Regions from separate parts of the Homo sapiens genome. Here all the other regions are linked to region 3. Evidence: fine-mapped expression QTL. A gene starts in region 3. Each other region holds a variant in brackets. All regions are shown on one strand. Distances are from middle to middle. Region 1 holds the start of TRD-GTC2-10 (tRNA-Asp (anticodon GTC) 2-10). Region 2 has its middle 110 kb from the start of LINC00939. Region 3 holds the start of DHX37 (DEAH-box helicase 37). Region 4 overlaps DHX37 (DEAH-box helicase 37).

Evidence for each region. PIP is the estimated chance that this variant, and not a neighbour inherited with it, causes the effect.
Region 1: its variant is fine-mapped to the expression of DHX37 in tibial nerve (GTEx, PIP above 0.99).
Region 2: its variant is fine-mapped to the expression of DHX37 in monocytes (Kim-Hellmuth 2017, PIP 0.95).
Region 4: its variant is fine-mapped to the expression of DHX37 in lymphoblastoid cells (GEUVADIS, PIP 0.95).

The regions. Positions count from the first base shown.
Region 1 is chr12:124,939,534-124,942,218 of GRCh38, reverse strand. It overlaps TRD-GTC2-10 (tRNA-Asp (anticodon GTC) 2-10), which reads left to right and starts at 2,501; the gene lies at 2,501-2,572. TRA-TGC4-1 (tRNA-Ala (anticodon TGC) 4-1) reads right to left here and starts at 2,253; the gene lies at 2,182-2,253. RefSeq lists a silencer at 2,459-2,538. The variant A/G (reference allele first, on the strand shown) is at 1,573.
Region 2 is chr12:125,874,069-125,876,753 of GRCh38, reverse strand. No RefSeq gene overlaps it. Among named protein-coding and RNA genes, the nearest start is that of LINC00939, 110 kb to the left of the region's middle. The variant A/G (reference allele first, on the strand shown) is at 1,229.
Region 3 is chr12:124,987,627-124,990,311 of GRCh38, reverse strand. It overlaps DHX37 (DEAH-box helicase 37), which reads left to right and starts at 1,181. Exons shown (of 27, transcript NM_032656.4): 1 at 1,181-1,395. The coding sequence starts at 1,290. RefSeq lists a silencer at 1,268-1,477.
Region 4 is chr12:124,951,058-124,953,742 of GRCh38, reverse strand. DHX37 (DEAH-box helicase 37) reads left to right here. Exons shown (of 27, transcript NM_032656.4): 21 at 1,173-1,345. Among named protein-coding and RNA genes, the nearest start is that of TRA-TGC4-1, 12 kb to the right of the region's middle. The variant G/A (reference allele first, on the strand shown) is at 1,147.

The DNA.
Region 1 (2,685 bases), 48 kb after region 3:
GTTCGAGACCAACCTGGCCAACATGGCCAAACACCGTCTTGAATGAAAAAATACAAAAATTAGCCAGGCATGGTGGCGCGCACCGGTAATACCAGCTACTCGAGGGCCTGAGGAATGAGAATCATTTGAACCCAGGAAGTGGAGGTTGTGGAGATTTGAGATCAACCACTGCACTCCAGCCTGGATGACAGAGTGAGATTCCCATCTGGAAAAAAAAACACAAAAACCTGCATCTGCATGGCTGGTAGATACCTGAAAACATGCACACCCTAGAAAGTAGGCAGGAAAAAAGCAGAGAAATAATTCAGTTCTACTTCCTACCCAACAGATTGGAAAAATTAATAATCATGGCCATACCCAGTGCTGAGAATATAAGGAAAAGAGCACCTTCATACATTGTTATTGAATATGTAAGTTGCCACAGCCTTTAGAAAAAAATCCAGCAATATTTATTGTTTTTATTTATTTTTTTTTTCTGAGACAGAGTCTTGCTCTGTTGCCCAGGCTGGAGTGTAGTGGTGCAATCTCTGCTCACTGCAACCTCTGCCTCCTGGGTTCAAGTGATTCTCCTGCCTCAGCCTCCTGAGTAGCTGAGACTACAAGTGTGTGCCACCACACCCAGCTAATTTTTTATATTTTTAGTAGAGATGAAGTTTCACCATGTTGGCCAGGCTGGTCTCAAACTCCTGACCTCAGGTGATCTGCCCACCTCGCCCTTCCAAAGGGCTGGGATTACAAGTGTGAGCCACCATGCCTGGCCCAAAATCTAGCAATATTTAAAATAAACCAGGCATGGTGTTTATGCGTGTAATCCCAGCACTTTGGAAGGCTGAGGTGAGAGGATCACTTGAGGCCAGATGTTCGAGACCAGCCTGGACAACATAGCGAGACCCCTGTCTCTACAAAAAAAAAAAAAAGAAAAATATTTGCTGGAGGTGGTGAAGTATACCTGTAGTCTCAGCTTTTGGGGAGGCTGGGAGGTCTCTTGAGCCAAGGATTTCGAGGCTGCAGTGAGCTATGATCGCACCACTGCATTCCAGCCTGGGCGACAGAGAAGTACGTTTGTAAAAGTATCCATGCCCTTTGACCCTGCATTGCTCCCTGTGGACATCTGCCCCATCGAGGTACCGGCGCCAGAAGGCAAGGAAAACGCATGCACCAGATCACTGACTACAAGACTTCAGTGAGAGGAAACAAAATTACCCGAATCCCTAGGAGGAATGGTAATAAAGCGTGCTACCCCTCCGTTAGGAAATACTATGCAACCACGTCCAGCATTTGTCCTGAACTCCATCAGGCTCGCACTTCCTCTGCAGCACCCCTGGAGGAAGTCTCCAGCAGCTTCCTGGGCGGTGGCTGCACCTCCTTCCCGATCTCCCCACGTCCACCCACGCCCAGGGTGTGTTCTCCGCATGGCAGCCAGAGGGAGCCTTTTCAAACCTGAATCTGGTCGCGTTCCCCTGCGTCAGGCCTTCCAGTGTCTTCGAAGATAAAGTTCATCCTCATTCACTAAGCTCCAGGGCATGGCTTTCTTCCTGCCCCTTCAACACTGAGCGCCCTTCCTCCAGCCTC[A/G]GGGCCTTGGCACCTGCCGTTTCCTTCGCTGGAAGCACTGTTTCTGCAGAGGTCTCCCCTGGCAGCTAATCTAAAGCAACCCCCACTCCTGCACCCCTGAGTTTCCATCTCATCGCTATTATTGTCTTCATAAAACGTATCGCTACTTGCTTATTGTTAAGTCTCCAGGACTGGACTATAAAGTCCAAAAAGGCTGAGAAAGCTTGCCTGGCCTGTCTTATCCAGGGATACCAGGGGACGTACACTTTACCCGGCACACAGTAGGTGCTCAGTGCATGCACGGAACCTGACATGAGGCCCTCAGGAGTTAATGAATGGTCAGTTGCAGAACCTTTCTAAGGAATCCATGTTTTTCTATCTGCTTGATGAAACAAATAACTGGGAGTATTCGTTTCAAATGGCAGATTCCCGGCCCCGTCACTGACCTACTGAACGCGAATCTCCGGTGGAGGGGCCCAGGGCATTTGTGATTAGGGGCAGGGAAATGTGCTGGCGCAGCCCCTTCCAAGGGAGCTTTCTTCGCAGGCAGGTTGTTGAGGGTTGCCTGGGTCCTCTTCCAAGCTTTTGTAACCACGTGACTGTAATTTGCCCGAAAAAGGCGGAAAAGTCTGGAGATGCCGGGGATTGAACCCGGGGCCTCATACGTGCAAAGCATGCGCTCTACCACTGAGCTACATCCCCTACCCCTTGTGTTGGTCTTTTCTGGGGATGGTGATACAGGAAGTGCCCTTCGCTCTGCTAGTTCAGGTGCCTTAGCTTCGGAACGTGCAGTGCCTCCAGCCACTCAAAGGGGCCTCTACCCGCCTTGGATAAGCCCAGCAGCCAGGGTGCCCGGCGCGGAGCCTGGATGGCCCGGAAAGGTTAGGAACGATAGCGAGAGAATGGTATGGACATAAGAAGGGAGCTGCAGGGAACACAGTACGGCTTGTCCTCGTTAGTATAGTGGTGAGTATCCCCGCCTGTCACGCGGGAGACCGGGGTTCGATTCCCCGACGGGGAGGCCGGGTACTTTCGTATTTTTAAATACAGAGGGGAGACTTTGTTGGCGATGCTTTTCGGTGTTCCAAAATATACAGAGTAGGTATAAGAGGATGTGCACATCGCAGGTGTGCC
Region 2 (2,685 bases), 890 kb before region 3:
AACATGACACATGTATACATATGTAACAAACCTGCACATTGTGCACATGTACCCTAGAACTTAAAGTATAATAAAATATATATATATATTTTAAAATACATGCAAATAACTCAGAACAAAGCCTGTATACATTATGGGCTCAAATACAACTATTATTGCTGTTACTGTTATTAAGTTTTTGAACCCAACTCTTTCTAACCCTTTTGTAGAGGGTGTGTTGAATAGAGATCTATCAAAGCCACTTCTAAGGTTCTACCCAACCTGGCGATCTGTAAATTTTTATTTTTTTTAACTTTTATTCTAAATTCAGGGGTACATGTGTAGGTTTGTTACACTGGTAAACTTGTATCATGGGTGTTTGTTGTACAGATTATTTCATCACCCAGGTGTTAAGACTAGTACCCATTAGTTATTTTTCCTGATCCTCTCCCTCCTCCCACCCTCCACCCTCTGAAAGACCCCAGTGTGTGTTGTTCTCCTCTATGTGTCCATGTGTTCCCATCATTCAGCTCCCACTTACAAGTGAGAACAGACAGTATTTGGTTTTCTGTTCCTGAAATAGTTTGCTAAGGATAATCCTAAGTGTAATAATTCTGGGATTAGTGGTACATATGCCAAAAACCAACTATTAAAATATACAAAAGAGAAGAAGAGCAAGTTGCATTTTTAAAGTTATTGAGATAATTTTAAAACCTCGTGTTTTCTAAAAATATTTAATAACATGGGGAGATGCTTAAAATATGCCAAGTTTGAAAAGCAGAATGAGTCTAATTATTAAAACCTCAGAAAAATAAAATCCATTTCTAAAAGTTCATGAACATTATTTATGAATATATGTATTTCTTTCTTTCTTTTATGCCTAAACTAAGCACTAACAGTAAATAAATCAAAATACTAATCATGGTTATTTCTATTGGGAGTAGAGGTAATATTTCTTTTCTTCCTTTTGTTTTTCTTTAGTGTCTTTTTTATTCCTATAATAAGCAATAGGCTTTTATAATTATGATGCCTTCAGGGGCGGGCCTGGTGGCTCACGCCTGTAATCCAGCACTTTCGGAGGCCGAGGCTGGTGGATCACGAAGTCAAGAGTTCGAGACCAGCCTTGTCAACATGGTGAAACCCTGTCTCTATTAAAAATACAAAAATTTGCCAGGCGTGGTGGCACAGGCCTGTAATCCCAGCTACTCAGGAGGCTGAGGCAGGAGAATTGCTTGAACCCAGGAGGCGA[A/G]GGTTGCAGTGAGCTGGGATTGCGCCACTGCACTCCAGCCTGGGTGACAGAGCGAGACTCCATCTCAAAAAAATAAAAAATAAAATAATTAGGTTGCCTTCAATAGCAAATAAAATTTCTTGACCCAGTGATATCTGACTATGCAGAAATGTAACTGGCACTTTCAATTGGCCGTCTGCATGTCAGCCACAGTATAGACCTGTGCTAGGACACTTTTCATGCAACACAAGTGGCATGACAGGATATTCAGGATTTGGATGCAATAGGACATATTCTTATTCCTAAGGTGCCACAGACAAAATTAACACATTCCCAATTTATTTTTCTTCCCACTTAATTTTAGAGCAGAACATCAGGCCTAATTTATCAGAATCTTTTTTATTACTGATTAGCAAGGCATCGGATGATGATGAAAGGGGATAATATCACATTTGCACTCACTTCATGAGCAATGGCTCTATTTCGCTGATGGAGCATTTCCTTTCTTTCCTCATCAAATGCAGCTCAAAGGTTTGTCTCTGTAATGCACAGATGCCAGATGCTCTCCCTAATTAGTATCTCATGCTCCACAGTGACAGTCCCCAAACTTTGTCCATCATTTGCCAACATGAGGGCCTGGATTCCTTTCTCCATCCCAAGTTCCATAGCAGCCTCTTTTGCTGACCTTACAGCTGCTGGCTTTGTGGACTATTATTTGTGGGAGGCTATTTTCAGTGTCTTCTATTGAATATAGGGTTGGTGTGGTCATAGGTGATCACAAACTGCAGCTACATGGGTGGCAGGGTCCAGGGACCCTGAGAATCAACCCTGGAAATGCCCCCTCTTGCTCCAGTTTCTCACTGCAGCCCCTCCATTTTGAGCAATCAGTCATCATTGGTAACAGTCTCACCTGCCAGGACAGGGGAAGAGTCAGATACGGAGAGTCTTCTCTGGGGAGCAACTGACCATCCTTGGTGGATAGACCATTTAAACAAGTATGACAGTCACCAGGACATTTCACACATATTTTGTCTTCTGAGCCTAAGCCCATTGTCATGGACTGAATCTTTGTATTCCCCAAAATTCATATATTGGTGACTTAACCCCAGTGTGATGGTATTTGGAGACAGGGCCTTTATGGAGGTACTTATGTTCATAAACATTCATGAGGGTGGAACCCTTTTAATGGCATTAGTGCCCTTATAAGAAGAGGCACCAGAGAGCTTGCTCCTTCTCTCACTGTCTCTCCACCATGTGAGGACACAGTGCGAAGGCATACATCTGCATGCCAGGAAGCAGGCCCACACCTGGAACTGAATCAGCGGAACCTTGATCTTAGACTTCTCAGCCCCCAGAACTGTGAGACATAAATGTCTTAGTTCTTTAAGGCTAATATAACAAAGTAACACAAAATGAATAACCATCCACTATATGGTATTTTGTTATAGCAGCCTAAGCTAAGACACCCACCAGCCTGA
Region 3 (2,685 bases):
GGGAGGACAGGTCAAGGCTGCAGCGAGTGGTGATTGCACCACTGCACTCTGGCCTGGCCCACAGGGCGAGATCTCATCTCTTAAAAAAAAAAAAAAAAAAGTCGGGCGCGGTGGCTCATGCCTGTAATCCCAGCACTTTGGGAGGCCCAGGCAGGCAGATCACGAGGTCAGGAGTTTGAGACCAGCCTGGCCAACATGGTGAAACTCCGTCTCTACTAAAATACAAAAACTAGCTGGGGGTGGTGGCGGGCACCTGTAGTCCCAGCTACTCGGAAGGCTGAGGCAGGAGAATCGTTTAAACCCGGGAGGCAGAGGTTGCAGTGAGCCGAGATTGCTCCACTACACTCCAGCCTGGGCAACAAAGCCAGACCTTGTCTCAATAATAATAATAATGCATTGTTTCCCAGTGTGTTACAATGTGATGCGGTAATGGGAATTTAAAGTTATGTAATAGACAACTTTATTTTTTTTTTTTTGAGACAGAGTCTAGCTCTGTTGCCCAGGCTGAAGTGCAGTGGTGCAGTCTCGGCTCACTGCAACGTCCACCTCCCGGGTTCAATCAATTCTCTGCCTCAGCCTCCCAAGTAGCTGGGATTACAGACGCCTGCCACCAGGCCTAGCTAAATTTTTTTTGTATTTTTGGTAGAGACGGGGGTTTCACCATCTTGGCCAGGCTGGTCTTGAAATCCTGACCTCGTGATCCGCCCGCCTCGGCCTCCAAAAGTGCTGGGATTACAGGCGTGAGCCACCGCGCCCGTAGAGGCCTCCTTTTAGATCTTCCATCTATCCCTGTGATGGAAATATTTGGTGCCTTTTTAAAAGTACACGACTAATACGTTTCTTGTAGGAATATCAGAAAATACAGATGCGCAAACCAGGGTTGGGGGGAAGAAGTTTGGAGTACTGGGGGCGGGGTATATTTTAAAAGGTGGCAAAACACTTCCACTCCCAAGAAGCCAAATTAGTATCAGTAGATATAATTCATATTTAAACCCAGACTACCCCAAGCGAGAACAGCCCAGGACTTAAACTCCGGCCTCCGCTGGGACCTCAGGCCCCGCCTACTTCTCTAAATAGTCCCGCCCCCTGCCCGGCCCGGCTCCGCCTCTCCTCTTCGCTGGGTTTCTCTTGCAACCCCGCCCCTCAGCGGCAAAGTCAGTTACAGTTCTCGCGATAACACAACCCGGAAGTCTCACGGCCGGAGTTGGTGGTCTGGGAACCCACGTGGGCTGGGTTTCGGATTGCTCTGCTGGTCCGGCCGCTGGAGCGCCCACCCTGGCCTAGTCGCCATGGGGAAGCTGCGCCGGCGCTACAACATCAAGGGGCGCCAGCAGGCGGGCCCCGGACCCTCGAAGGGCCCCCCCGAGCCGCCCCCCGTGCAGCTGGAACTGGAGGGTAAGACATCCCCGGACCGGGGCTGGATTTCGGAGATTTCCCAGGGCGGCCTGTGCCCTGCCTTCAGGACTCTCGGGTGGGGATCCCAGAGGGGTGGGATGGATCATCTGGAATGGGGGAATGGGTCCCCCCATTCCAGATGATCCAAAGGAGAGGGGCTTAGTGACAGCCTAGTTTTAACAGTGTATATGGAATACCCGGGATTTCTCTCGCCCTCAAATAGTAACATGGAGAATTTGGCAAAAAAAACAGGAGTAGTTCCATCCCTTCCCATGACTTCGATTATAATCTCTTTATAATCTCCAGCGACCCCCAAATGTGTATTTTCAGCCCAGTCTTGTCTGCTCAGCTCCAGGCTGGCTGACATTTCTCTCAGACCCCTTTTTAGGAGTAGCCCTTATTACATGCCAGGCACTATTCTAGGCACTGGAGACATAGCAGAAAGGGAGATTTTTAGAAAATCCCTGAGTTTACCTGCTGTATAGGAGGAGACAGGCAAAGAATAAACATATAGAAATTTATGCGGCTATAGTGAGCAGATAAAACAGAAGAGGCCATTGGGTGGGTTGCAGCATCCCATAGAGTTGCTGGAGAAGACATCACTCTGTTAGAGTCAAGATCTGAAGGAGACCTGAGTGGCTGCCTGGAGATGAGAGAAAAAACAGGGGGCCAGGGCAGGTCGGGCCTGGACTGCAGTCTTGGCGAGGACTGGGGCTTTTTCTCTACGGGAGAGGGCAGCCATGGGAGCATTTAGAGCAGAGGAGGCGTGGTGGTGGGCACCTGTAGTCCCAGCTACTTGGGAGGCTGAGGCAGGAGAATGGCTTGAACCCAGGATACGGAGGTTGCAGTGAGCCAAGATCGCACCACTGTACTCTAGCCTGGGTGAGAGAGCGAGACTCCATCTCAAAAAAAAAAAAAAAAAAAAAAAAGTTCCACAGACAGGCTGGGAGTTGAGGCAGATCCCCTAACATCTCTGTGCCTTCGTTTTCACATCTGCAGAATGGGACCAGTAGCACACGTTGAGCAGCCTTAATCCAAAATACTCCAAAATTCAAAAGTTTTTGAGTGTCAACATGACACTTAAGGAAATGCTCATTGGAGCATTCCAGATTTCAAATTTTTAGATTAGGGATGCTCAACCAGTGAATAGAATACAGATGTTCCTAAAGCTAAAACAGGTCTGGTTCCTAGCATTTCTGGAAAGGGATATTTAACCTGTAGTAGCCGTCTTACCTCCTATCAGAGTTTTGGAGATGGTAATTTGGGAAAATATGTTGCTTTGAAAAGTAA
Region 4 (2,685 bases), 37 kb after region 3:
ATACTTGGGGAGCTTTTCCAGGAACAAGGGAATGTGCACATGAGCAGGGCACTAACAGATTCGAGCTGCCAGCCTGCACCCTCCCCCACCAGGTCGTCGCTCGGTTTCACCTTTTCCCTGGCGATACCCCCTGCCATTTTCCATCACCGCTGTGGCCTGGACCCCTCTTCCCTCCCACATGTCCCCCAGACCCTTCTCATGCAGAAGGATGAGGCCTTGCCCTGGACTCTACCTCAGCTCAGCAGCACAAATACTTCCTGCCACCAACACCCAGGGAAGCTTGAGAGGAAGGAAATGTCCTCCAACATATGGCAAGAGGACGATGCGTAGAGAGGGCAGCGTGGACACTGGGTCTCTTCTGGGCAGGCCACGTTCTTGCACCCAAGGCTAGTGGAGAATTTGCCTTCCATTTAAGCAGATCCCAAGGTTTGATGCCAGAATTGATGGCTCTCTTCCGGCCGATCCTTCTCCCAGCGCCAGGTGCATGGTGGTGGCCCTGTCACCATGCTCTGTGTCCTTCTGGCTGTGGCTTTCCAGAGCAGCCCCATTCCAGGTGCAGCAGCTTAGAATTGCAGTCAGCCTCCAGACAGTGCTGGTTACAGTGGCTTGGTGACATTAGACCTTTATTGTTGCAAGGAAGAGAAGTCACTTGAGTCAGCAGCCCAGGGCGTTTCTCTGCTGCCATCCTCCTGCCATTCGCTGTGCCTTCCATCCTAAGGTCACCTCTTGGGCTGAGGAGGTAGTTGGAGGCTTAGTCACCTCTGCCTTCCAGGCAAGAGAAGGGAAGGATGAGGCCAGGGCACCCGCCGGCTGTCCTGTTCCCGTATTGAACGTTCCCAGGAATTCCAGCCGCAACTTCCTTCTTCACATCATGGACCAGAACTGAGTCTGAGGCCACCTGGGTGTTAGGGGAGGGCTGTCTCCTCGAAGAATGCTCTGCTGCCCAGGCAGGATGTGGGGCTTTGTCCCAAGGGAGAAGGAGGGAATGGGGGGGCGGCTGCAATCCTGCCTGCTGGGGGCTTTGGGTCCTGCTGGTGGCCTCTGGGGAGGGGTTGAGACAAGCAGGTGGCTGAGGCTAGAGCACTGAGCATGGTTGGGACTTTCTAGGAGGTCAGGGCAGAGCTGGCTCCGGGCCTTGCCACCACC[G/A]ACCTCACTCTTGGTTCTCCCCTCAGTCAATGCCGTGTGCCCCGAGGCTGAGCTCTTCGTGGATCCCAAGATGCAGCCGCCCACCGAGAGCCAGGTGACCTACCTGCGACAGATCGTGACGGCAGGCCTGGGGGACCACTTGGCCCGCAGGGTCCAGAGCGAGGAGATGCTGGAGGACAAGTGGAGGAACGCCTACAAGGTGCGGCCCCCACCGCCTCCCTGCCCGGGTAGCTTGGGGCACCTGGTGAGGGGCAGGCGGGCTGGGCCCTCAGGGTCTGGGGAGGCTTGTTCCCTCTCAGCTGTGGGTCCCCACTGAGGAACAAGTGGGGCTTGCAGTAGAATCACATCTTCCTTGGTTAGTTTCTCCCAACTTTTTTTTTTTAATAACAGTTTAGTGGAGATAAAATTCACACAGCATTTAAACTCTTTTGGGGTTTTTTGTGTTTTCTAGAAACAAGGTCTCGCTCTGTTGCCCAGGATAGAGTGCAGTGGCACAATCATAGCTCACTGCAGCCTCGAATTCCCAGGCACAAATAACCTTCTCGCCACAGCCTCCTGAGTAGTTGGGACTGCAGGGGGCACACCACCACCTCCGACTAATTTTGTTGTTGTTGTTTTCTTTTTTGAGACAGAGCCTCACTCTGTTGCCCAGATTAGAGTATAGTGGTGCGAACTCAGCTCACTGCAACCTCCACCTCCTGGGTTCCAGCAATTTTCCTGCCTCAGCCTCCCAAATAGCTAGGATTACAGGTGTGTGCCACCATGCCCAGCTAATTTTTGTATTTTTAGTAGAGAAGGGGTTTCACCATTTTGGCCAGGCTGGTCTTGAACTCCTGGCCTCAAGTGATCTGCCCACCTCGGCCTCCCAAAACGCTGGGCTTACAAGCAGTGTTACCCAGGCTAGTCTTGAACTCCTGGCCTCTAGGAATCCTTCCACCTTGGCCTCCCAAAGTGTTAGGATGACAAGTGTGACCCACTGCATCTGGCCTGCATTTAAACCCATTTAAAGTGTTCAATTCAGTGGGTTTTAGTATTTTCACAGAGTTTTGCAACCATTATCATAGTTAACTTTAGAACATTTTTATTACCCAACAAAGAAACCCCACATATGTAAGCTGTGAGTCCCCAGTTCCCCGTCACCCCCGTTTTCATGATCCTGCTTTCCATCTGTGGATCTGCCTGTTCTGGACATTTGGCATGAGTGGAATCTTAACATACATGGCTTTTCATGTCTGGCCTCTTGCACTTAGTGTGATGCTTTCAAGCCCCATCCACGCCATGGCAGGTGTCGGTGCTTCCTTTTTTTTTTTTTTTTGAGAAGGAGTTTTGCTCTTATTGCCCAAGCCGGAGTGCAATGGCGTGATCTCAGCTCACTGCAACCTCCACCTCCCGGGTTCAAGCAATTCTCCTGCCTCAGCCTCCCAAGTAGCTGGGATTACAGGTGTGTGCCACCATGCCCAGTTAATTTTTTGTATTTTTAGTAGAAATGGGGTTTCACCAACATGGTGAAACCAGCCAGGCTGGTCTCGAACTCTTGAC